Linked DNA regions of Homo sapiens: all the other regions are reported to be linked to region 4. The links are microRNA targets in miRTarBase. Many come from high-throughput screens and were not tested one by one. Region 4 holds a microRNA gene; each other region holds the end of a gene's coding sequence.
The links. Region 4 holds the annotated microRNA hsa-miR-548ar-3p (UAAAACUGCAGUUAUUUUUGC, at 1,867-1,887, shown strand). A microRNA usually pairs through its seed, bases 2 to 8, with sites in the 3' UTR of a target mRNA and lowers its output. Matches are read on the target gene's strand: a 7mer-m8 pairs with bases 2 to 8, a 7mer-A1 pairs with bases 2 to 7 and ends in A, and an 8mer does both.

Region 1 (4,000 bases), not on the chromosome of region 4:
TACCCTCCCCACGCTCCCATGTGAAATGCTACATTGGTTGAAACTCATTCTCCCTCTCTGATGGTGACCATAAAGGCTTTTTGTGAGAGGGCCTGTGATTTGTCCTTGGTATTGGCAGGGGCTTCAGGATGCAACCACTTTTCAGGACAACTCAGTAAGGTACTCACAGAATATTGGCTGTGAGAATAAGTGAATGAATTTAGGAATGAAATAATACGTTTAACAAATTTCCTGACAGTAGATGTCTTAAAATTGGCAAGCTTTTCCTAGAAACAAATTTCTCCTTCTAAGAAGCTAAATGAAGAAAATTTGAGTAACAACGGTGATAGTAAAAACCGAAAGTTTTAGCTTTTTAAAAATCCTAGATTTATTCATAATTAGCAACTTAAGTGTCAAGTTGACCTTGAACTTGGTAGAATCATTCTGACTCTGCTAGTAGTTTTTAGAGTTAAAAGGCTCCTATCTAGGAGACTCTTCGTGGCTTTCATTTCTTATTCATCAATCTTCCGGATCTCTTTCCAATGTTACTTCAAAGACGACTAGTGCATTAGTTACTTCCCTTACAAACTTTGTAGGTGCTAGCCTGAAGTAAAAATTCTGTAGTTTGGAGCTACAGCTTGTTCTTCATGTTTCTTCTAAGATTGTCTCTGTAGAATTAAATGTCAAAATCTGAAAGGCGAGCTCAGGGCAGTTGATTGAAGGAGTATGATATGTAAAACACACTTTATGTACATGTGTGCCAAGATGTGTGCAAGGGGTGCAACAAAATGACTTGTGAGTGTCTCCCTCCTTGATCTGTTTTGACCAAACTTTATTACTCATTTAATGGAACTGTAACAAAGAGCAGGAATCAAAACACATGGGGATCACAGAGGCTGTTATGTTTATTGTGCAGAACAGACAGTGATAATACACTAGAGAAATATTTTCAACAAGCAAGCGATTCAAAGTACAATCATAGACAGCAATTCTACATAAAGAACAAAGAATAAAGTTAGAAGACACTCAAAGGAACAGGGAGAAAGTCAACTGCAGTTAAACGTCTTGATACTTTTCTCCTGCAAACATACCTAACTTGCAGAAATGGTAGAAAAGTTAAATGTCCAGTCTTATGTAGCTGCGACCAACAACAGCAAAGAACAGTCCTATAAAATTTATCTCCCACAAAAATAAACTATATATATAAAAATTTTATGATGTTCTTACTGTTCCATTGGCCACAAGCTTTTTTTTTCAGTATGAAAAATGAGGTATACTGGGACTTAAGAGGTAGTAGTGTGTTTTGATTGTACAACATACAGGAAATAAAAGTGTAACTTTACCAGAGATGGAAATCACTCGGTGCACCATGTTTGGCCAACATGAGCAATTGCTTCCATTTTATGAGCTGGCCAATGAGGTTTCTAAAAGGCCCATCCAAAGATATGGAATGCGACTTTTATTTTTATGAGCCACTGTTTATTTGCTTATTTAACGCACAGTTAACAGTAATGTTGAGTTTTAATTCTCTCCATAGCTCCTTTGGTGATTCACAACAGTGAGCGATCTGCCAGTCTCAGAGAGGTATGTGGCCTTTGAAACTACCTCCCTGAAGCAGCTGGAAGAGAGATGGTTTTGAGTTTCATTTGGCTTCAGTACTAAAAGCCATACTGACAAAAGCCGTCATGAGAAACTACCTCCTGGCCCAGTTGATAATACCATGTTAAAAAGTCAGCACACTCACTAGGAGAGAAAGGCATAAAAACTCTACATAAGAAGCGTTTAAAATAAATCTGGTTGAGACATATTACAAAAATCACATTTGTGTAAAATACATGAAAATATTTGTCAAGCATTTTCTTATATTCAACTAATCTTAAAAACACATATTTTTGATTGCATTATGCAAAAGCAGGGCTTGTTGCATCTCACCTACAAAGCTTCAAGTTTCTTTGAAGGTTGGCTTTTATTTTATTTATTATTTACTTATTTTGCAAAAGTATGTAAAAACGTGTTCCTTTCTATCAAATGTCTTTTACAAAAATAGTTTTGACTAGGGTTAGCTGCAGTTTGAACTATTTCAAACATTGAAAAAACAAATGAATGCTGCAAGTAACAAGTTCATTCCTTTTGAAGTCTGGAGGTAGGTCTTTGCAAGTCAATTAGTCCATCTCCTTAAAGAATTCATTTGAGGTACAGACTTGGAGGGTAATATTTAAATATTACAGTCAAATCTTGTGTGATGTGTAGTGTGATTGAGGAAAATTATCCTTAAGAACCTAGGAGCGACTTGGTTAAAAAATTTTCAAGTTAATGTAGAAATCTAGCAGAGAAGCTGAAACAAGTATTTTAAAAATTTTTAATTAAAAAAACATAGAAAAATACATAGTCATGCTGAAACACAGTAAGGAGATTGCTTCTTTAACTGTAATTAAGTGTACAAAAAGAACTGCAGATGATTAGAATCACCTACCCAGTAAGTTTTTTTCTTGCATTGCTTGTGTATAGCAGCATGTAATAAGTACTAGACTGTAAATTCGTTGTAACATTCAGAGGTAGTATTGAGTAGTGGGGATATATTGCATCTCTGGCTAAAAGTGCAGTTTGAATGAAGAGATGGTGAACTCAAGCCGAAGAAAAGCACCTTGGTCAACCATCTTATGTCAAAACGTATTACTTGAAGTAACACATATGCTTAATTTGAGGTAAGTGGTATTCAGGTCTTTCATGGAAACTGATACACAATGAAAAGAGAGAGGGAGAGGAAGAGAGAGAGAGAAAGACACAGAGAGAGATTGCCCCCCCCTTTTTTTTTTTTGCTTTTTAAATTGATGTATAACTATAGCAAAAGAAATTTAGATTTCGCTCCTCCCACCTCATAATTAGGTGAGTTCATCATGCATTATTCTGTTGTACCTTTTCATTAAATTACAAAGAGGATAATTTTACTTGTCTAGTTTCCTTAAATGCTCTGAGGCTGACAAGTGTTATTTATTGCTAAATGGCATTTTGGCTCTGTAGGAAGTAGATTTCCTGAAAATGAAGTGTTGTCCTGAAAACAAGTGCTGTGAGTAAATTTATTACTCCTGCTGATATGTGTGATATCCATAAATAGAAGAGTTGGCAATATTTGTTTGCTTACTTCCCTTTTTGAAAAATGAACATAACCTTTTCTAGTTTGTTAGCTGAATGAAAGGATACATCAGCATTTCGTCTCATTTAGAAATAAAAAGTTAAAAATCATCAAGTAAGTGTCTACAAGATTATACGAAAAAGAGAAAGTAGTATCTAGTCCTTATCTTTGGTGTTCTAAACAGAGGATTCACTACAGGGAGTGGGTTGGGGTGGTATTTGAGGTGTACACAGTGTTACACACCGCGTTCTTCCTATATGAATGCCCGACGTCACAAGTGTGACACGTTTCTTGTTTGCATGCAGTGCAGTGATTGACTAAACCCAATTCGGTTTTTCTCACCCGCCCACTCTTGCTTATCAGATCAACAAACTATTAGTAGGTTAAGAAAAAAGAAAACAGTAATTAAAAGTTGCATTGTTAAGCTGTGTCCCCTGTGTTTACAGCAGTTTTTCACTAAACCTGGGACTGTGAAGGGATTACAAAGAAGGTGATTAATATAGTCCTTTTTAAGGTTATGTGATTTCTCCCCACCCCACCCCCCCCTCCCCCACCCCACCCCACCCCACCCCAGATGAAAGTGGAAAGACCATGGCAATACAGAATAAGTGGTCACTGCAGTGTCTTCTCCCTTCAAAAGATCCAACTGCTGCTGAGGTAGAAATCGAACGTTGGCGCCCCCTAGTCCTCTTCGGCAGACTCTTGTGAGGATGTCTCTTCAGTTTCCTCCTGGAACACACAAAGGGCACAGCCATGACGCTCAATCGTTATACTGTGTGGGCTGCTCTTGCCAACAGTGCAGAGGTAACCTGTTTCCACAGCACATTATGCTTGCCTCAAAAGAGGATGACGATGACTGGCGAGCCCTCATTCCCAGGGCTTCTTAAA
Region 2 (4,205 bases), not on the chromosome of region 4:
ATGATTATTTTAGCATTTCTTTTTTTGCAGATGCTATGGCTACAATGACTGAGGACTACTGGAGAGTCCAGGATTGATTAAGTGTCTGGCTGAGAGACCAAGAGGACCAGACACATGGGAAGTGCTGTTTCTCGAAGCTCTGCCTTCAGGCAGACAAGGAAAGACCTGGTCGTTCAAAGATGTATAAAAGCCCTCCCTTGCCCATCCAAGCCTGATGCTTACATGCAACTTTTAATTGACCATCCCTTGGTCCTGAGCACAAAGTTCTCTGTAAGAGCAGCTCTATAAGGACATAGTGAGAAAGGTCAGCTCCCTGGGACGAGCATCGGTATTCCATGAGAACACCAGGTCTGTTAAAGGTTACCCGTCTGCCTGGTGTGACTGGCTGGAGAAATAAGGTAGGGAGAATCTAGATATGGTTGAATTGTCATTGCTGCTCAAAATTTGTTTCTTTGTAACAACAACAACAACAACAACAACAACAACAACAACAACAACAACAGGTGAAATTATCTTGAAATACAAAAGAACGTCTGTTGGTCCTGAGAGTGAAAAAAGGAATCCTTAACAGCTTCAGCTTGCACCAAGAGGATTTTTTTTTATCAGCTTCCCTTCATAAGAGAGGATGGAGGATTTTGGAAGAGACAGAACCTGGGAGAAATTCAGTGAGCTGCCACTTACTGTTAACTACTCCACAGAAGAACTATATGTTTATTGGAATTCAGTAAATGTGGCATGTAAGGATTTAGTCAATGTCTGGCAAAATGCTGCCACTTAGGACCCATTTGGCTAATACTAGAAGTAGTCATCAAGTTAACTGTAACTGCCCAACATTTTCTTAGAAGCCAAAGAACTTAAACTTTTATAGAAGAACGCCCAGTCAGTACTATATTAATGTGTGTATTACATTTATTGACTGTTGAACAGAGCCTGATTCCCAAGAGTCTTTAAGGCCATAATAAATGCAAAAATTGTAACTAAATTTCCTTTGTACTCTTCAGTCTTTCTTGTAACCTCAATGAAACTGAAAGTACTATTTTAAAAGTACAATGACTACGACAAAATTCCATTTAAAAATCTTTAAAGTGTTGGGTTCTGAGGCTTTTGAACTTGAATATTTACACTGACCCCAATAAATTCTCCTCTAACCAAGTTCTCATGTCAGCCAAGGGGGATTATGCTGGATAGTAAGGATGTCTACAAGTAAATCCACTTGCAAAACTATAAAAGGAGCTTCAGGGGCATTTAATGGTCTGGAAGATCTAGAAAGATCCAAGGAGGGTAGGGAGTAATATTCATCCACCACAGCCACCTCACCCACATTCCAGAGTTGCTGAAATTATTACACACATGTAAACATAAGGACAAGACAAAGTTTTTTCAAGAAATTAGAAAGGAATGACCGGGCGCGGTGGTGGCTCACGCCTATAATCCCATCACTTTGGGAGGCCGAGGCAGGCAGATCACAAGGTCAGGAGATCGAGACCACCCTGGCTAACACGGTGAAACCCTGTCTCTACTAAAAATACAAAAAATTAGCTGGGCGTGGTGGCGGGTGCCTGTAGTCCCCAGCTACTCAGGAGGCTGAGGCAGGAGAATGGTGTGAACGTGGGAGGCAGAGCTGGCAGTGAACCAAGATCGCACCACTGCACTCTAGCCTGGGCGACAGAGCGAGAGACTGTCTCAAAAAAAAAAAAAAAAAAGAAAAGAAAAGAAATTAGAAAGGAACATGGCTTAACCATGTCTATTTAGACATAAGTTAATATATAGGACAAAGTTACCTATCCCTTCTCATTGACTTAATAACAAAACTCTCAAAATGGGCTTTTATTGGATATTATTGTGATTAAAACTTTCCAATTTCTCCTTCACTATTATAGCAAGCTATAGGAGATGTCTTGTTTTCCAGCTCCATATCTGCTGAATAGACTAACCAAACAGAAGCCTTCAGTCTCTGTAAGCCATTCTTGCTCAAGAAAGTAGTCCTGAGAACAGTCTAGAAGAAACCAATCCTGAAACAAAGAAAACTTTTCCACTAAACTCTCCTGACATTCATACATTTTGCAAGGGAGAACGCATTTAATTAAGCTGCTATTGTCATTGCAACAAGTCTTAACTGTACCATGGAGATATGTTTTGGTTATACATTGAAATAATAGCATGTTTAATTAAGGTATTACAGAATGTTTCTGTTTCACTATATTCATAGCAAAAATTTTTCAATGTATCAGTGACAGTTGAGATTAAAGAAAAAATCAACCCTGAATATAGCTAACATATTGGGATGAAAATTTCCCTCTAGCTGCCTTTCCCTCTGAAGCATCTACATATTTTCCTTGTTAATAAGCAATGCTTTCACATAAATTATTTAATTATATGGCTTTGTCATGCTGCTGACATAAAACATATCTGCAAAAGCAAGGACTGGATTCCTAAATGTCTGTAGGAAGATTTAGTGAAGATTCAGTGCTCATCACTGTGGAGTTCCCACTGGCTGATAAAAACCTGCAAGAAACCTGTATAATAAAGACAGGCGTGCATCCCTAGAAGCACAGGGTGATGGCTCCAAAATCTTTCCTTCTAGTTTGGAAGGAGCAAGGTGTCTCCCGTCTTCCCCAGCACAGCTGTGCCAATTGTCAAGTGTGTCACTGACTATGCAAAAGCTGCAGGGTAGATCTGCAGGTGAGGAGGTACAAGGCAGAAAAGCCAGAACCGGGGAGTGTCCAGGGGCACCTGCAGCCCTGTGATTCTATGTTACTTGCCAGTGATGTGCCTCCTGGTGGATGTGATACTAATGTTCCTGGTTGAAATACTGCAGGGAAACAAAGGGCCTCCTCTGTGGTGCTATATGGAATTTGGCTTTTTCTTGGACCTTTCAAGATGGATGTTTTCTGGTTTTAGAACTCTGTCTTGATGCACAGAAAGCAAAGCATTCAGTGGGCAATGGGAGGCAGAGATGAAGAATGCAACGGTTGGAAATAAAAGCCTTTGCCAGGATGTGCTGGGAATTTTTTGCTGTTAAACACATCTGAGTGATAATTTCAATGTCTGTCATAAAACCTAGGATATTTAATGATGAATGCATGTATAACTGACACACTCGATGCTGTAAATGATGTCCCTCAATTTGAATGTTTCTAAACATAAACCACTTCATATGGTCAGGAACATCACCAAAACCTGTCATTGAAACCAACCCTGATGAGGGGTACTCATGGCAGAAGAATAAGTTGTTAACATTTCTGGAGGTATCATACCCATGGTCATACATGTGTTTTCTTTCTAGCTATCCTTGGTTTTGCATCTTTCTTGAGCCTTATTTTTTTAAAAAAACCATTTCTATGTTCAAAGCAGTAATACATACTCAATGGCTTAGAAAGAGAAGGATTATCATGACCACCACTAAATTACTGTTTAAAGACTCAAAACTACACTGTCTAAAATCTATCTTCAAGTATTCTTTTGTGACTTTGAGTACAACAGTAGTACCTTATTGCACATTGATTCCCAAGAAACCCTTTTTAAGAGTGTGGAATGACTGGACTTGGTGCAGGGCAGTGCACCGCCTGGAAGCCGGGAAGAACCACCTTGCCCTTGCGATGCAAATCCCCCTGCGTGCCCATGTTCAGGCGCTGCACCAGGAGCTTCTCATAGAGTAGTGGGTGGTACGCCCCGAGGGTGCAGGCTGCGTCGTAGTACAGCTCGTGGTAGTGGCACAGCTCCGTCTGCCGCACGGATGGGATATATTCATACACGTGCACCTCTCTGCACATGGACATCATTATGAGGATTCCTGACATGAAAACCAAAAATTAGAACCTAATGAACAACTCCATGTGAGAGGGATGAGTTTTTTGGGGGAGGGGTGGTGGTGATGGGATATGACTGTGGCAAGAGACACTTACTTTTTTGTTGTTGTTGCATTTGCAATGTTATAACTTCCATTAAGTGGTGTGTATGCAGTTCATGGAGTATGGGGGCATATTAAAATGTAACACTATATATATATATATCTATTCGCTCATTTAATTTATCACTGTGGGCCTGGTAAGGAGAGATGAAAAGAAGTCAGTGAACTTGAGGGAACCACACGCTAGTGAAGGACAGATTTGCAACCCCCCAAATCAGAGTTTCCTGTATCACATTCTATACACATGTCCCATCTGGTTTGCAATGATGGGACAGTTATGTTCCAAAGAAACAAA
Region 3 (4,000 bases), not on the chromosome of region 4:
AAGAGTCACCTCTTTTGGAGTCAAGAAAGGCCAACCTGGCGTTTTGAAGAATCCAATTTTGCTAGGTTGTGAGGTAGGAAGAAGGAATGGCACTTATAAAAGAGGGAACATCAGGCTGAGTGCAGTGGCTCACGCCTATAATACTAACACTTTGGGAGGGCGAGGTGGGTGGATCACTTGAGGTGAGGAGTTCAAGACCAGCCTGGCCAACATGGTGAAACCCCATCTCTACTAAAAATACAAAAATTAGCCAGGCATGGTGGTACATGCCTATAATCCCAGCTACTCGGGAGGCTGAGGCAGGAGAATCACTTGAACCTGGGAGACGGAGGTTGCAGTGAGCTGAGATCATGCCACTGTACTCCAGCCTGGGCGACAGAGACTCCATCTCAAAGGAAAAAAGAAAAAAAAAAAAAAAAAAAACAGGGAATATCATTTACAGAGAATCACAAGACAAAATAGCACATTCCAGAAATTCCAAGTAGGTCAAGTACATACAATGTTGGTCTGCATTTTAAAAACTCGACTAAAGTCAATATTCAATCAGAACATTTCTCATAACAATCTGAATTTCTGGCTTCTTTTTAAAAAACTGGGCACTATGACAAAGTGGGCCCACATTCCCACGTGGATACAAGAGGCAGGCGTCCCTTTTAGATGGGACAGTTTGCCACAGCACTTCTCCCTTCTCCCACTGCTCTTGCATCCAGTTCACTTCATCCATTTAACTCACCTTTCTAGTCCCTGCAGGCGTTTTGAGTTTACAAATACCACCCTACATGATGAGGACCAAGGAAGGTTTCAGCAGGAAAAAAGCCATATGATTAGCTTTGTTTTCAAAATGTCAGGCAGCCAGATGGAAGGCAGGAGAAGTGAAGAGTGGTAAGGAGACCAGTGAAATCCACAAACGCTTATTCTATTAAAGATTAAAACAGGGCTACCATCACTGCAGTGGGAACAGGGCACCTTTTACCAAAAACTCCCATAACAGATGACTTGAAAACCACTGAGTTTATGCATCTGTAGGATATATGCAGGAAGATGATGAGGGTTTGAAACAAGGCAGTATGTACAGGGTGGAAAGAAAGGGGCAGAGAAGGATAAATATTTGAAAGGTTTTTGAGGGGAAGAAACTCTCCAACACTGGGTAACCAATTTGACAAAGGGAACAAGGAGAAAAAAAAGTATAGGACAATTTACAGCTTTTTGTCTATGTCATTAGGTAGATAGTGGTGACATTCAAAAATAAGGAAATAAAAGCAGGAACAAGACTAAAGGAAAATTCATAATTCAATTTAGAATACATTGAATTTGTAGAGTCTACAGACATGCGACTTGACATCAAAAACCCCGATAAATTACCAAAGAAAACTCTTTTCCAACTATAATGCGATAACTTTCTAACAGCTTAATCATGAGTGAAAATCAGAGAAAGGCATGGTTATATAAAATATTTTACAGAATGAATACCAACAAAACTAAGATTAAAGTAGACTATTATAGAATTGAATAAAATACTGCAACAAAGATGACAGAGGACCAATAACATCACATATAAAAGCATAATGATAAGATATAAAAACAGAACATAAACAAGTAAAGGTCCAGCAAGTCTCTCAATGTAAAGGAAATGCATTTATACCCTACACTGTTTCCATTAAAGATTTAAGATAGCTTACTACAAAAATATACATAGTAAAATGGTAAGTGTAAATAATAGTAATAATTAAATGTAAAAATTTTTTTAATTATCACCAGGAGAAATCTGGACTAGAAAAAAAGAAACAAAATATGCAGAGCATAAGGGCTTTCAGAAATATCGTTGACAATGAAAGTAAAAAGCTCAACACAAGTGGCATGACTCTTATTATCCATTAGGAGAAAACACAGCCATTTCTCACTTTAAAAAGGACATTTTTGCTTTTTCCCTCAATTGAAAAGATAGCATTTCATGATAAAAATTTCTCTACATTAATTTAGCTTTATGAAAACTTATTACATTGTCTCTGTTTCTCAAATGTTATGTTACTGCAGGACAGTTGAATTTAAAAACAACAACAACACTTTACACAGTGACATTTGAGGATGACTACAATAAACAGAACAAAAAAATTAATTGCATAAAGCTGCTTCTTGTGGTACCCCTTGATGAAAATAAACCACAAAATACTGAAATGTAACTCAATGAACACAGCTGGGTAGGTGGAGAGCAGGGAGGAAGGGAGAAGGGAGAAAGGGGAAAGGGAACATGAAGTGGGTGAGGTATACAGACTTCTGATGGTCCATCCTGAGCCACAGGAAGAATGGATACAATTTAAAGGAGTGGATATACTGCTCATCCTTCAAACTATTGTGACTGGGCTTTGGTAAAAGCTCAGCAAGAAATGAAGAGTAGACAGAGTCTCACACCTGTAATCCCAGCAGTTTGGGAGGCCGAGGCAGGCAGATCACCTGAGGTCAGGAGTTTGAGACCAGCCTGGCCAACATGGTGAAACCCCGTCTCTACTAAAAATACATAATTAACTGGGCGTGGTGGCTCATGCCTGTAACCTCAGCTACTTGGGAGGCTGAGGCAGGAGAACCACTTGAACCCAGGAGGCGGAGGTTATGGTGAGATGAGATCGCGCCATTGCACTCCGGCCTGGGCAACAAGAGTGAAACTCTGTCTCCAAAAAAAAAAAAAAGAGTAGACAGAGTGAGGTAGAAGTCTCTGGAGAGAACCCAAAGGTTATATACTCTGTACTACTGGCTGAGGATGGACCTACAAAAATTGAATATCATCCAAGCACAGTATTGCTGAGGTCCTTTCATGAAAATTTGAGGCCTCGTTAAAGGCTGTCCCACATCAGCATAGATGAGGGCCCCATTAATAAAAGGCCAAATATAAAATGAAAAAATAAGAACAATCAGAAAGCAGACACCAGAAAACTATTCACTCATACATATATTTTTAAAAATGCAAATGACAGTATCCTTTAGCATCTATAAGCTAAGCAAAAGTAAAAAATAGCTGGAAAAATTCAATATTCTGCAGATTTTAAGACAGGAGTTATATTCAAAATTTGTTAAGAGGCTGGGTGCAGTGGCTCATGCCTGTAATCCTAGCACTCTGGGAGGCTGAAGCAGGCAGATCGCTTGAGCCCAGGAGTTCAAGACTAGCCTGGGCAACATGGCAAAATACCCTCTCTACAAAAAAAAAATACAAAAAATTAGCTGGTCGTGGTGCATACCTGTAGTCCCAGCTACTCAGGAGGCTGAGGTGGGATGATCACTTGAGCCCAGGAAGTCAAGGCTGCAGTGAGCCGAGATCACGTCACTGCACTCCAGCCTGGGCAACAGAGCAAGACCATCTCAAAAAAAAAAACTGTTAGAAAAAGCCAAGTAGTTAAACAAACTATGATAATATTAATGTATCTGTGCAAAAACATGATTATGTACGATGTGAACAAATATAGAAAGATGCTTATGAGACAATATTAAGTGAAAAAAAAAAATGAGTGCAAAGTACTCTAGGATTGCCACAATATAAATTGATAGAAAAACAATGGTGGACCACAGAAGTCAGCAGAGCTCCATCTACCCAGCCTGAGGAAAGCACCTAGGAGCTGCAGATAGCAGCTGCCATCTTCAGCACTTGCCCTGGACTAGCCCCATCTGCACTCAATTTTAGCCTCTCTTTGCCTGTTCAATGTCCCACCCCATCCCCAACCACCCATGCCCAAATGTATTCTTCCAAAAGGACATTTTCTCCTTTTCCATCTTCTTTACTTCTCGCAAGACACTGTGAGGTAGATATTATTATGACCATTACAAATCTATCATTAAATGAATGAATGGTTACAAATTAAAGCTAAACAGAAGGCTTGTTTTCAGATCTTCCAAGCTGGACAAGCTTCTTCTTAGTTCACTGACCCCCTTTAAGGTTTACCTGGGCAGGGCTTCTTGGCCGACTGAGCAGGGACAGAAGCCAGAGGACCAGCTTCTGCAGCTCCAGCTGCGT
Region 4 (4,000 bases):
GAGAATCAGTCCAAGTATGTTGGCAGTGGTGTGAGGTGCGTCAACAAGGGAAACAGAAAATAGAGTGGTTGGATTAATGGGATTCTAACATATTTTAGCCTAGTGCAGTGGTTCTCAACCAACCAGAGTGATTTTGCCGCCCCCTGCCCCGGGAACAGTTGGCAATGTCTGGAGATGTTGTTTGTCACAGCTTAGGGGCAGGGAGGGAGGTTGAGAGGTTGCTGCTGGTATCTAGTGGTTAGTGGCCAGAGGTCCTGCTTAGCACCTGCAGTACACAGGCTCCCCTGTTCCCAGCAGAGCAAGATCCACGCAGTCAGGAGTGCGGAGGCTGGTGGTTCTTAGGTGACAAGAGCCACCTGGGGACCTGCCTCAGCCCTGAAAGAGTAGCCTCCACCCACCAGATGATTCCCGTCTTCAGGCCTGGAGCCACTGTGTCAGCTTCTGTTGCACATTTTGATCTTATGTTCTCTTTTGAGTTTGATTTACTTAGACCAAGAACTGTAGAATCATATTTTTAGTTGTTGGCTTTTTCCCCTCTATAAATATTATGAGGATATTCTTTTTTTTCTCACCATTTTTAAGAAAAAGAACTTCTTGAATCACTACCCCTTAGCAAGCTGTGTAATGAAGAACAGGAATTGCTGCGTTTTCTATTTGAGAACAAATTGAAAAAAGTAAGTAAAACCAAAGAGTTAGCACTTGCTTTATGTAAATATCTTATTCCATAAAATTTGGCATCTAGTCTTATATTAAGTTTTCAAAATTAAAACTTTTTAAATTTAGCACATTTTTAAGAATAGAGCGTTTAAGATACATAAGATTCCAAAAAAAAAAAGCTTTCAAAAATACCTTTTTCCTCTGAAAGACTCCTTATACTAAAAGATTGAATTACCAAGTAAATGTAAATGGAATGGTGTTGCATGGAAATGAAGATTTTTTTGTTATGCTTCCTGAATGTTTACTTTGAGAAATACGTCCCGCTGTGGAATTCTGTTCTAAAATTGAGAAGGGAATTAAACTTACTGAGAGGAGTACTTATAAAACCTAAAGTTATAAGTTTTCAGAGGCTCTCACATTTGTTCTTGTAAATGTTTTAACCACTTGGGCCAAACACAAATTGAATCCACATTTTATTTTGTTTTTGCTCATTGAGTTTATGTTTACATTTCTATGTGTTTCAGTATAATAAGCCTAGTGAAACGGTCATCCCTGAATCTGTAGATGGCTTGCAAGAGAATCTGGATGTGGTAGTGTCTTTAGCTGAGAGACATTATTATAACTGTGATTTTAAAATGTGCTACAAGCTTACTTCTGTGTAAGTATATCCATCCATTTTTCTGTAGGAACATGGAGTTCACTCCATCTTACCTAGGTGATTCACGGACGTGCTCTCTGAATAATCTTGAACTAGATGATAATTTAAGTTATCTTTACCAATTGTAGAGCACTGAACAGGGTGCTGTCTTAAAAGAGCAATTTACAGACATGAATTTGTGCATATTTGTAGATTTATTACATTAACTTGGGAGGGATATACATGTTGCTCTTACTGATCTTGATAATTTGCAAGTTTGAAAATTCCATTTTGGCACATTGTTTTGTAAAATTTATTCTCAATTATGAGACTCACACTGTAGATACTAGGTGTTTAATATGCTGCACGCAGTAGCTAAGCCATCTCCCACATGTATCAGTTTTCCAGTGTACCTAATTTAAACTTTAGCTAAATGACATATGCTATTTTTTGTAGATCTTGGTTCGGTTTAAAATCCTTGAAATTACAAAAATTTTAATTGGCAAATACACATAACCTATTTATTAGTTTGGTGCAAAAGTAATTGCAGTTTTTGCTGTTGAACGTAGTGGTAAAACTGCAGTTATTTTTGCACCAACCTAATAGGATTTCCTGTTGGTTTTGATTCTTTTAAATAAGCGGCCTACTTATTTTATGTATTACAATTCTGTTGACTTAAAGTAAATGTATGTGATAATGTTTATTTTTATTCCTTTCAAATAAACCAGAATTTTTTCTTTCATTTGTAACTTAATTATGGCCTTAACTGAATCAACCTGAAGATAATGGAGTGAAGAAAGTGAAGTGTTACAACCCACAGCATCATATGTGATACCATAATGACTGTCTACACATAGCCGATCGTCGTGAGTGCTGTCACCTGCTGGTTTGGGGGTAGTAATGTGTCGCTTTAACTTTCAGAGTAATGGAGAAAGATCCTTTCCATGCAAGTTGTTTACCTGTACATATAGGGACGCTTGTAGAGCTGAATAAAGCCAATGGTAAGACTTTTTTTTAAATTAAAGTAATTCTTAGACATAAAACAAATCTTTTCTGTAACTTGAAATTTTGTCTCTGAAATTCTGGATAGTTGAGATTGCAGGTAACAACATAATGGAACCCTACTATAAAAGTAACAACTGGGGAGGAAATGTTTAGGAAAGTAGCAAATGGCCAATTTTGTTTTCCCATCAGAACAATTAGTTCTTTATCACTGCTTCCTACTACCTTTTCTCAAATATCATTTATGTTTCAAGGTTTGTTAGCTTTAAATTGTTGGGTGTCAGTTCTGCCTCCCCCCCCCTTTTTTTTTTTTGTAAATTCCACTGGAAATCTGATATGGTAAGAGTTGATAACTACTTAGAAATTGGAAAGGAGCAGATTGTTTGCTCATGTTTTCCGTATTTTTAACATTTGACATTTAGTTGTGTTTGGGGATGCATTTGTCCTTAAATTTTTCTAAACTGAATGGTGAGCTCTGTCAGGAAGGAAAACCCTCACCGAATCCCTGCTGCTCAGAGTGTGGTTCGTGGACCAGCAACATCGCATTTGTGGAAGCTGGTTGGAAATGCAGCATCTCCAGCTGCTCTGGTCTACTGAATCCAAGTCTGCATGCAGGAAACATCATCTTGAAATGCCAGGATTTACACATTTCTCAAGATTAAATAGTATCATTGATCTGATAAACTTGAAAGTTTGTTCAGCCAAATTGGTTGTGGGTGATTATGATGGTCCATAATGGGCCCTTGGTGTGACAGGCATGAGCTTCTAAGAGAGGTGAGGTGCTTTGCTGTATCCTCTGCAGTATTCGGGAAGTGCTGTCTTAGGGGGTGTCTGTTCCCACCTTGCCCACAGTGTGTCCTTCATCTAACTCTCCAGTTAGAGAGTTAATTTTTTATCTAGAAGGAAAGACAAGTATGAAATCATTGCTGTAAGAGCAGAATTATATGATTGTGAAGAGTTGTAATGAAATCATGTCTTAAATTACATGTGATACGAACAATTGTTCTTTTTCTGCTTTTTCCTGAACAGAACTTTTCTATCTTTCTCATAAACTGGTGGATTTATATCCTAGTAATCCTGTAAGTAATATAACTTTTAGTCTTAGTTTTTTTTTTTTTACCTGTACTTTAAGAAAATGCTTAACTCGTATTTAGACAATAGCTTAAGTTCAAGCAAATGATGTTTTATTAAAGTGTTGCAACAGAATCTCCTAGTGTTTATTGTACTTACAAAAGCAGCATTAACTTTTCAACCCATGAAGGTATTTTTTAATTATACCAAAGCAAAAAGGTTTTTAAACCCTTTTTTCTGATTATAGAAGTTATACATGCTTATTTTAAAATACTTAGCGTATAGCAATATAAAATACTGACCATGACAGTCACGCCTCCCTTTCCTAAGAAATGTGGATAATTGTTTGGCAGCTTTCTCACATTGCACATGTAAGACAACCTGTTGAATTGTGTACTGATTCCAAACTGTCATGGATCGGAATGGAGAACTAGGAATGGAAAATGGAATCAGGGACTGCGTCTTTAAGGACAAAATCAGGAATCAGGGTGTAAGACTCAGACGACAAGAATTTGCACCCTATCCCAGTGTGAAACCAGAGCAAGAGAAAACCAGCTAAATAGTCAGAACTCGGACAGAGAGCAAGGAAGAGCCAGGGTCAGGCTGGGGGAGATGAGCAGTGCAGGGGAGTCA
Region 5 (4,205 bases), not on the chromosome of region 4:
TCAGCACTACTACAGAAATGTACATGCTGTTGTCTTCGTGTATGATATGACCAACATGGCTAGTTTTCATAGCCTACCATCTTGGATAGAAGAATGCAAACAACATTTGCTAGCCAATGATATACCACGGATTCTTGTTGGAAATAAATGTGACTTGAGAAGTGCCATACAGGTACCCACAGACTTGGCACAAAAATTTGCTGACACACACAGTATGCCTTTGTTTGAAACGTCTGCTAAAAACCCCAATGATAATGACCATGTGGAAGCTATATTTATGACCTTGGCTCATAAGCTTAAGAGCCACAAACCATTAATGCTTAGTCAGCCCCCTGATAATGGAATTATCCTGAAGCCTGAACCAAAGCCTGCAATGACGTGCTGGTGCTAAATAACAGTCTTTATTATATTATCTAATTTTGACTAAAGAAATACTTTTGAAGTATGACAGTATTAAGTCATAAGATTTAATCTCAACTATAATGGGTCATCTTGACACTTTGCTGTTTGTCATTGTCACGCTTTTGTATTTTGTATCTACTTAAGTTTGTCACTGTGACAACACAGGAAAAGTTGGTTTTCAGGTGAGATTGAAAATGAAGCAAAGATAGGATGAATCTGAACATCTCTCCATCTAGAGCCCAATGAAGGAAGCTTCAAATGAGAACATGATGGAATCAGTAACCATTCAATCTTTTGTCCTAGGATTGGAAAAAAATGTTAAAGGTTTAGGACACACCTAATAGTATGTCCTTTGAATGGGAAGTGTTCTTAATAGGATAAAAACTGGTATTTGCCTCTCCCCAGAGTACTTTTTTTGTTTTTTCATAGAGACGGGGTCTTGCTATGTTGTCCAGGCTGGCCTTGAGCTCCTGGGCTCAAGCAATCCTCCCACCTCAGCCTCCCCAGTACTGGGACTGTAGGTACTCACCACTGCATCTGGCCTTTCTTTGTTTTATTAACATATTTAGTTTTGTTATTATTGGTATGTTTTAGAGCCAAGACTTTAGTTCCAGTGGGATAAGAAGGCATAGAATGTTTTCTGGTTCCCAGTCCATAAAGAATGACTTTTCCAAGAGTTCTAGATGTTTGATTTTCTAATTAATACTTATCAGATCTACAAAAATCATTATTATTTTAAAAGAGTTATTTGAGTTTCTTTCTTTCTTTTTTTTTTTTTTTTTTTTTGAGATGGAGTCTCGCTCTGTCTCCAGGCTGGAGTGCAGTGGCGTCATCTCGGCTCACTGCAACCTCCGCCTCCCAGGTTCAAGTGATTCTCCTGCCTCAGCCTCCCGAGTAGCTGGGATTACAGGCGTGCACTACCACACCCAGCTGATTTTTGTATTTTTAGTATAGATGGGGTTTCACCATGTTGGCCAGGATGGTCTCGATCTCTTGACCTCATGATCCACCCGCCTCAGCTTCCCAAAGTGCTGGGATTACAGGTGTGAGTCACTGCACCCAGCCGAGTTGCTTTCTTACTAAATCCTATTAAAATATGCAAAAATAAGTCAGATTTTAAGGCAAATAAAGTGACATAAGGTGCTTTATATTTTATTTTGGTATATTTAAACAGTGAAAAACTAACTGAAAGCACATGAAGAGTTGTAACTTGGGGGAAAATAGGTAAACATAGCTTCTAGCTAACACAGGAGACCTATTCTTAGCCTTTACTAATTTCAAGCAGTGTATCCCATATGGTATCTCTTGCTCTTCCTTCAACTCCAATAAATTTAATGACTAAATGCCAAGTTAACAAATCAACTTCCATTTGGATTGTAGGTGTGAAGGCACAACTCTAATTGCTATTAGTCTACATGTATTTCTGTAATAGTATTGTGTCATATCAATTTTTAAGATGTCTAAATTTTATGGTCACAAGTTATCCCTCCTCAGTATGAAAAATAAATTAGATATTGAAAAATGTCTAAACTTCAGTGATGGAAAGAATATTTCAAGAAGTTTTTTAACCTAAATACTTTTATTTTGAATTTAAGTCTTTGCACATAAAATATAGCAAGCTTACATATTAAACTATTTACGTAAATGGAATGTAAGCCATGACTTTAACTGAAGTGTTCACATTCACTAATTTTGATAGATTGCTGTCCTTAATAATTTTGGAGGAAATTAAGCCAAATGATTATTGTACTACAGTATTTTCAGAATATGGGAAATCAATTAAAAATGTAATCTAATCTAGTTTAAGATTTTTGTTTAATCATCATGGTGGTCCTACCTGGATAATTTAACTATAAAGACAAAGTAATTCTATTAAATGAACTAACTGAAAATAATAATTATAGGAAGTGATTATTCCATTTTAAGTATTAGAGCTCAAATTGGCTTTATTTGCATTTAGGGAGATCATGTTTTCTTAATCATGCTGGAATTTAAAAATTGTTTTACTTGTATCGAAATTAACCTTGATTTATAACTATTTTTGTAATAAAACAATGACAGCTGTAGTAACTATGATGGGTGTAACAACATTTTTTTAAAGAAGGGAATCTGTTTATCGCTTTTCAAAATATTTTCTAAAGTGGGGGAAGAAAGTTTATAGACTTTCCAAGCACATTTATGGTTTTTTATTACTATTATTATGGTTTTAAAAAGAGTAACTTTATTTCTTTTTGTAAGGAATTAAGTAATATCCTTTACAGTTCTGTGAAAGGACTTATTTTTTAACTGTAATATTTATTAGTTTTAAAATATTTGTATCTCATTTGTAACAATTTGTTTTAATTTTTTATATATATGTTTTTATTTTTAAAAAACATACCAGTTGAATGGGGTTAAAGCTTTCAATATCTTAAAATATTTATAAAACATTTCACTGTTGCAAAATCACTTCCAAAATGATAGCTATCTAACAACTAATTACTAATTTTTAAAGAACAAATCACACATTTAAAAAATCTGTAGAATTTATTTTAACTATGACCTTTAATTGAAAATAAATAATTAAAATATCAGACATGTTTTGGAAAAGTCTTAATTTGAGAACACCAAAGGAAACTACCCCAGAATCTAATGTAGTTCGCTATTAATAACAATGCATTATTGAAAGTATATTGCAAATACATGTTTCCTCATGAAATCTAAGTAATTTTGTTGTGGAATAGTGTCACTGTTACATTTCCCCCATGAAGTTCAATAAACCAGCTTAGCCACAAAGAAATTGTGTTTTATTTTCTTTGTTTGGTTACTGGGTAGAGTATAAAATAAAACAATCTTTTTTTCCTCCTGGTTTCCAGATAATATTATATATATGATACACTTTTGAAAACAACAAAAAGCCCCCAACCCATTGGACAATTATTTTCTTGTATACATTTGAGGTCAAAGAACACTTCAGGAAAAAAACTCAACAAAGTATTAAAATTAGCTGATAACACAGCTTTTGTATTTGTGTGTTTTAGTAATCCAGCTTGTTTTAGAATAGTTCAGTGCAAAAAGCAAATGGTGCAAGAGGAGTTGATGTGTATTTAGACGTAAAAGCATTTAACAGAATGAATAACTATAGAAAGTATGAGAAAAGAGAACGAACTACGTCTCAGGTATAAGATTGCAGTTACTGATTTAGACACCATAGGATTAGGGATGTGGGGGCCTCTGATGTTGATTCTGCTTCCCCTGGTCAGTTTATTTTACGTATAAGTTACCCTTGTGTTCAAACACAAAATTGACATTATTCATGAAGGACTGCTTTCTTAATCAGATATTAAGAAGTTCGTCATGTATTTTGGGAGCACGTTTGCTACAGCCTGTGTGGCAAGGGCGAATGCACTTGGTTTGTTGGAATAACCTGATTTATCAAACATTTATCAAGTATGGGTCATGTGTTCTCTATTTGTGTTAGTGGAGCTACATAGACACTGTCCTTGAAGAACTTACAAAATAGTATATGAACAAATAGGAATTCTACAATATACTGTGATCAGTGTAATCAAAGAAGCATATACAAAGGACAATGAGCACAGAATATGGAGTGGTCTTTTGACTTGGATATGGGAGCAGTAGATAATCAAAAAGCTTCACAATGAGTGGAAGCATTTATGCAGCATCTCAGGGTAAATGTGAGGCATTCTCCATGTAAAGGAGAGGGAAGAAAGTCATCCCAGGTGAATGCACTGCAGGGCTCAAGAGTGGAGTTGAATTTGGGGGGAATGACTGCTAGGTCAGTGTGAGTATGTGATAGAATG
Region 6 (4,000 bases), not on the chromosome of region 4:
CTGTCTCTGTCGACTAGTCTAGGAAAGCACCCAGGTGTCAGGTATTTTGGTCCCTTCCACCACACCTCAGCAAATGTAAAACAAGCCCACAGTTAATGGCCCTGTGGCAACCCTGCCCTGGAGAATCTCAATAAGAGCATTTGAAATGAGGAAAGCAAGATTTCACATTTAAATATCTTGCTTTGGCACACAGTTGCTTTTATTGATTAATAAGCAAATAATTATAGGGGAACTACTATTCATCGAATACACTTATTAAAATATTATAGCACCATAAACTATATTGGTATAAAAATGTTTTATTCTTTCTTTTGTAGCAAGCCCAAGATGTAGCAAGCAGTCCACCTGAGAGCTCCTTCCAGAAACTAGCACCCAGTGAATATAGGTATACTCTATTGAGGGATCGAGATGAGCTTTAAAAACTTGAAAAACAGTTTGTAAGCCTTTCAACAGCAGCATCAACCTACGTGGTGGAAATAGTAAACCTATATTTTCATAATTCTATGTGTATTTTTATTTTGAATAAACAGAAAGAAATTTTGGGTTTTTAATTTTTTTCTCCCCGACTCAAAATGCATTGTCATTTAATATAGTAGCCTCTTAAAAAAAAAAAACCTGCTAGGATTTAAAAATAAAAATCAGAGGCCTATCTCCACTTTAAATCTGTCCTGTAAAAGTTTTATAAATCAAATGAAAGGTGACATTGCCAGAAACTTACCATTAACTTGCACTACTAGGGTAGGGAGGACTTAGGGATGTTTCCTGTGTCGTATGTGCTTTTCTTTCTTTCATATGATCAATTCTGTTGGTATTTTCAGTATCTCATTTCTCAAAGCTAAAGAGATATACATTCTGGATACTTGGGAGGGGAATAAATTAAAGTTTTCACACTGTGTACTGTGTTTTACTGATTGGTTGGATATTGCTTATGAAAATTCCATAGTGGTATTTTTTTGGATTCTTAATGTGTAACTTAAACATACTTTGAAGTGGAGGAGAGTCATAAGACAGAACATTTGGCAGGAATTGTCCTTATGAAACAAGAAAAAGAAAATGAAAAGTATTATTAAGCTTCTGTGTTTGTCTAAAAATGTGGCATATGGATGGCATTTAAAACTTTGAATGAATTATACCTAAATCTGGGACAGGGAGGTGACAGTGGAACAGGCTACCAATCAGAACTAGATGACTTTTAAGGCTCCTCCTATTATGAGACTTCAATTTCCAAAGAGAAGAACTAGCAGAGAAATTGTATTTCAGTAATTTTAAGCTCCTTCTGTCTTGTAGAGTCTTGTTATAGTTGTATAAATCAAAAACACAGAATAAGGAACATATTTAACTTTTTTTCATTATAAAATGGTTAGAGGACCCTACCCCCTCTAGATTCCCTGATTTCCCCAGGCCTGCAGCATACAGTAAGATGGGTCCCTGTGCCAGGCCTCAATACTGCCAGGGAATAAAACCAGAGGGAGAGGACCCTCAGTGTCATATCAGGAAGCCCAGTGCCAGAGGACAGACAGGTTCAAAACTGGCTTTTCCTCTGGGCCTGGGTTGGTGCTATAGGCCAAGGGTCATTTTATACTTGGGTATAAATCAATCCCAGTTTGGGAAAAGATTATTTTTAAGCTTAAAAGGCTGACATGTGCCATTATATGTAGTATGTAATATATGTAACATCTTCCAATTCTTTTAAAATAAAATTAATATTTATAATGGATATTTAATGATTGTTATTTTTAAAAACCAGCTTATAATTCCTCGTTATGCATGATTTATCCAAAGTTTCCATAGTTTTATTCAAAATAATAAATGTTAATAAGGTGATAAGGGGTATATTTAATGTATTGTATCAAATTGTGAATAAGAAAGTAGGATGGAGCTTTCTAGAGGTTGGGCCTTAGTTCTGTTATCCTCATTGCTTTTAACCAATAAGTTAAATGAAGTTAGAGTTATGGTCTTCAGGTTAGATTATGGACCAGATCTGTGAGGGTCAGCATGGAAATTCACATTCAACAAGGTAGCACACAGGACCAAGAGCAGCACATGCAATCAACTGGAATAATATAGTAATCCTGTAACTGGGTTTGAAAAAATAATCAACAAAAGATACAATTCAAGGGTTAGGTTGCAGAGAGCTGGCTTGAGAGTAGTTATTATGAAAAAGGCCTCAAGGAGTACGTGTTCAGTATGCTCTAAGATGATAAAGTGGCTGTTAAAAAGGGAGTTGATTTGAGGAAGTATTACTTAGCATTCATGCATATTGGGCTTAGGCTCTAGCCCTGCCACTATCATTGTCTTCTCTGGACTGTGAAGTCACTGAGGACAAGGAAACTAAATTTAATGTCTGTATCACTAGTGCCTAGAATTTCTGGACACTTAGTAGTCACCATCAGGCGTTTATTTAATGAATGAGAAGCAAAGTGACCTTGGTTACTTTTTTACCCTGAGGGGCTCAGCACTCATTAGGACTTGGTGCCTAATTTTATAAAAAGTCACTAAGCTCAAGTGCTTGGATGAAAGGACAGCGTGGATAAAAAGGTTTTTAAAACATGGATGTTAAGGCTGTTTTGCTTGGAGAAGACTTGGGACTGGGACAGTCTTTAGATATTATTTGAAATGCTGGCACTGTCTATCTGGATCCCAGGGCTTGAACTAGGATTTGAGGAAGTCACAGGGAAGCAGATTTCAGTCTGACATTTATTCAGTGCAAGTTTTTTGGTGCTGTAGTATATGATGAAAGATGTAAAGCTGAATAAAGCATTATTTCTGCCCTAGAGTTGTTCACAGCCTAGTCAGGCATATGGATATGTAAACAATGACTGTAACGTGTTATAGATGTAAAGACAAAATAAAGGTTAAAGAGGGCATAAAGGAGCACTCAATTGCAGAGATTTGAGGACATTATTTTTATTTTGAGCTTTAAAAAGATGAATAGGTGTTCTCAGGAGGTAGGGATCTGGCTGAGAGGGAATAATCTGAGCAAAGGTATGAAACAGCCTAATGCATTAGAGAAAAAAGTTCTTTTAGTAAGGCATTTGGGGTTGGGGAAGCTAGAAAAAGAAATGGGAGCTGGTCACACAGGGCCTTGTGTGCCAGACTAAGGGGTTTGTAGTATATATTGTAGGCAGAAGAGATCCATCAACAGATTGCAAGCAAGGAAGTATGTTCACTTTAAAGTTTGAGAAAGAATAGTGTGGAAGCACGTCTCAAATTTAGACTTGTTCCCCCTCTGAACCGTGAATCAGACCATTTCAGGTAGAAGTCTTCCCCGGTTTATCTGATCTACTCGGGGCCTCAGGCTTCTCAGCTGGGAAGAGAGGATGCAAGACCAGACTGAAGAACACGGTTGAGTCCCCAGAACCAAAAGGGGGCCTTTCTGCTTCTTAGCCAGCTACCTCTTCGAGTTTTTCAAATTGTGAGGGGGACCATAAAAGGATGGAAACTTTTAGATGACATTCTACAAATTATTTTTTTCTTTAAATTAAAAGAACCTAGCCAATAAGATAGAGAATGGGCATCTAAGGCATCTCAGAGCTCTCTGATGAAGCCAGGTTGTCAAAGATCATTTGCAAAAGAAGGGAAAACTGGCATGACAAAAGCTACAGAGAGGAGAGTGAAATATAGAAGTGTTTGAAATGTTCAAGCTCACAATAAGCTTAAATTTATAGAAAATGCTAAGGTTGTCAAGAAGGCTTTTTTTTTTTTCTTTTTTAAACCTGAGGGCAAAAAGGAATGGATAAAGTAGTGTAATGGATTGACAATCAGGAAGAACAGAATAACTCAGTTTTTTTTCTCCTACAAGGAGATATGGCTGGACCAAAATAAAATGACATGAAACTGCAAAAATGAAAAGTAAAAAAAAAAAAATTGTTGTCACCTTAAATGATTTCAAGGTTGTTAGACCCACACTTCTGTATCCTAGAGAGCTGCTGGAGGTTGCAAATGCTTTCTATTAACAACTGTTGGGAATTTTTGAGAAACCATGGAGAATGTAAGGTGA

Region 1: miRTarBase lists HMGA2 as a target of hsa-miR-548ar-3p. The part of its 3' UTR that is shown has no 7-base or 8-base seed match.
Region 2: miRTarBase lists ST6GAL2 as a target of hsa-miR-548ar-3p. Seed matches in the 3' UTR shown: 7mer-A1 at 1,848-1,854.
Region 3: the mRNA of ZC3HAV1L is a reported target of hsa-miR-548ar-3p. Seed matches in the 3' UTR shown: 7mer-m8 at 3,361-3,367.
Region 5: the mRNA of RAB33B is a reported target of hsa-miR-548ar-3p. Seed matches in the 3' UTR shown: 7mer-A1 at 2,703-2,709.
Region 6: the mRNA of ERP44 is a reported target of hsa-miR-548ar-3p. Seed matches in the 3' UTR shown: 7mer-A1 at 676-682, 7mer-A1 at 1,790-1,796 and 7mer-m8 at 3,782-3,788.

Annotation. Positions count from the first base shown.
Region 1 is chr12:65,963,086-65,967,085 of GRCh38, reverse strand. It overlaps HMGA2 (high mobility group AT-hook 2), which reads right to left. Exons shown (of 5, transcript NM_003483.6): 5 at 795-3,841. The coding sequence ends at 3,794. Among named protein-coding and RNA genes, the nearest start is that of HMGA2-AS2, 16 kb to the right of the region's middle.
Region 2 is chr2:106,803,157-106,807,361 of GRCh38, forward strand. It overlaps ST6GAL2 (ST6 beta-galactoside alpha-2,6-sialyltransferase 2), which reads right to left. Exons shown (of 6, transcript NM_001142351.2): 6 at 1-3,793. The coding sequence ends at 3,522. Among named protein-coding and RNA genes, the nearest start is that of ST6GAL2, 81 kb to the right of the region's middle.
Region 3 is chr7:139,022,780-139,026,779 of GRCh38, forward strand. It overlaps ZC3HAV1L (ZC3HAV1 like), which reads right to left. Exons shown (of 5, transcript NM_080660.4): 4 at 3,929-4,000; 5 at 2,927-3,781. The coding sequence ends at 3,765. Among named protein-coding and RNA genes, the nearest start is that of ZC3HAV1L, 11 kb to the right of the region's middle.
Region 4 is chr13:114,242,675-114,246,674 of GRCh38, forward strand. It overlaps MIR548AR (microRNA 548ar), which reads left to right and starts at 1,831; the gene lies at 1,831-1,887. CDC16 (cell division cycle 16) reads left to right here. Exons shown (of 18, transcript NM_001078645.3): 7 at 583-674; 8 at 1,182-1,315; 9 at 2,216-2,295; 10 at 3,326-3,375.
Region 5 is chr4:139,472,736-139,476,940 of GRCh38, forward strand. RAB33B (RAB33B, member RAS oncogene family) reads left to right here. Exons shown (of 2, transcript NM_031296.3): 2 at 1-3,874. The coding sequence ends at 391. Among named protein-coding and RNA genes, the nearest start is that of RAB33B, 21 kb to the left of the region's middle.
Region 6 is chr9:99,979,031-99,983,030 of GRCh38, reverse strand. It overlaps ERP44 (endoplasmic reticulum protein 44), which reads left to right. Exons shown (of 12, transcript NM_015051.3): 12 at 318-3,846. The coding sequence ends at 419. Among named protein-coding and RNA genes, the nearest start is that of STX17, 74 kb to the right of the region's middle.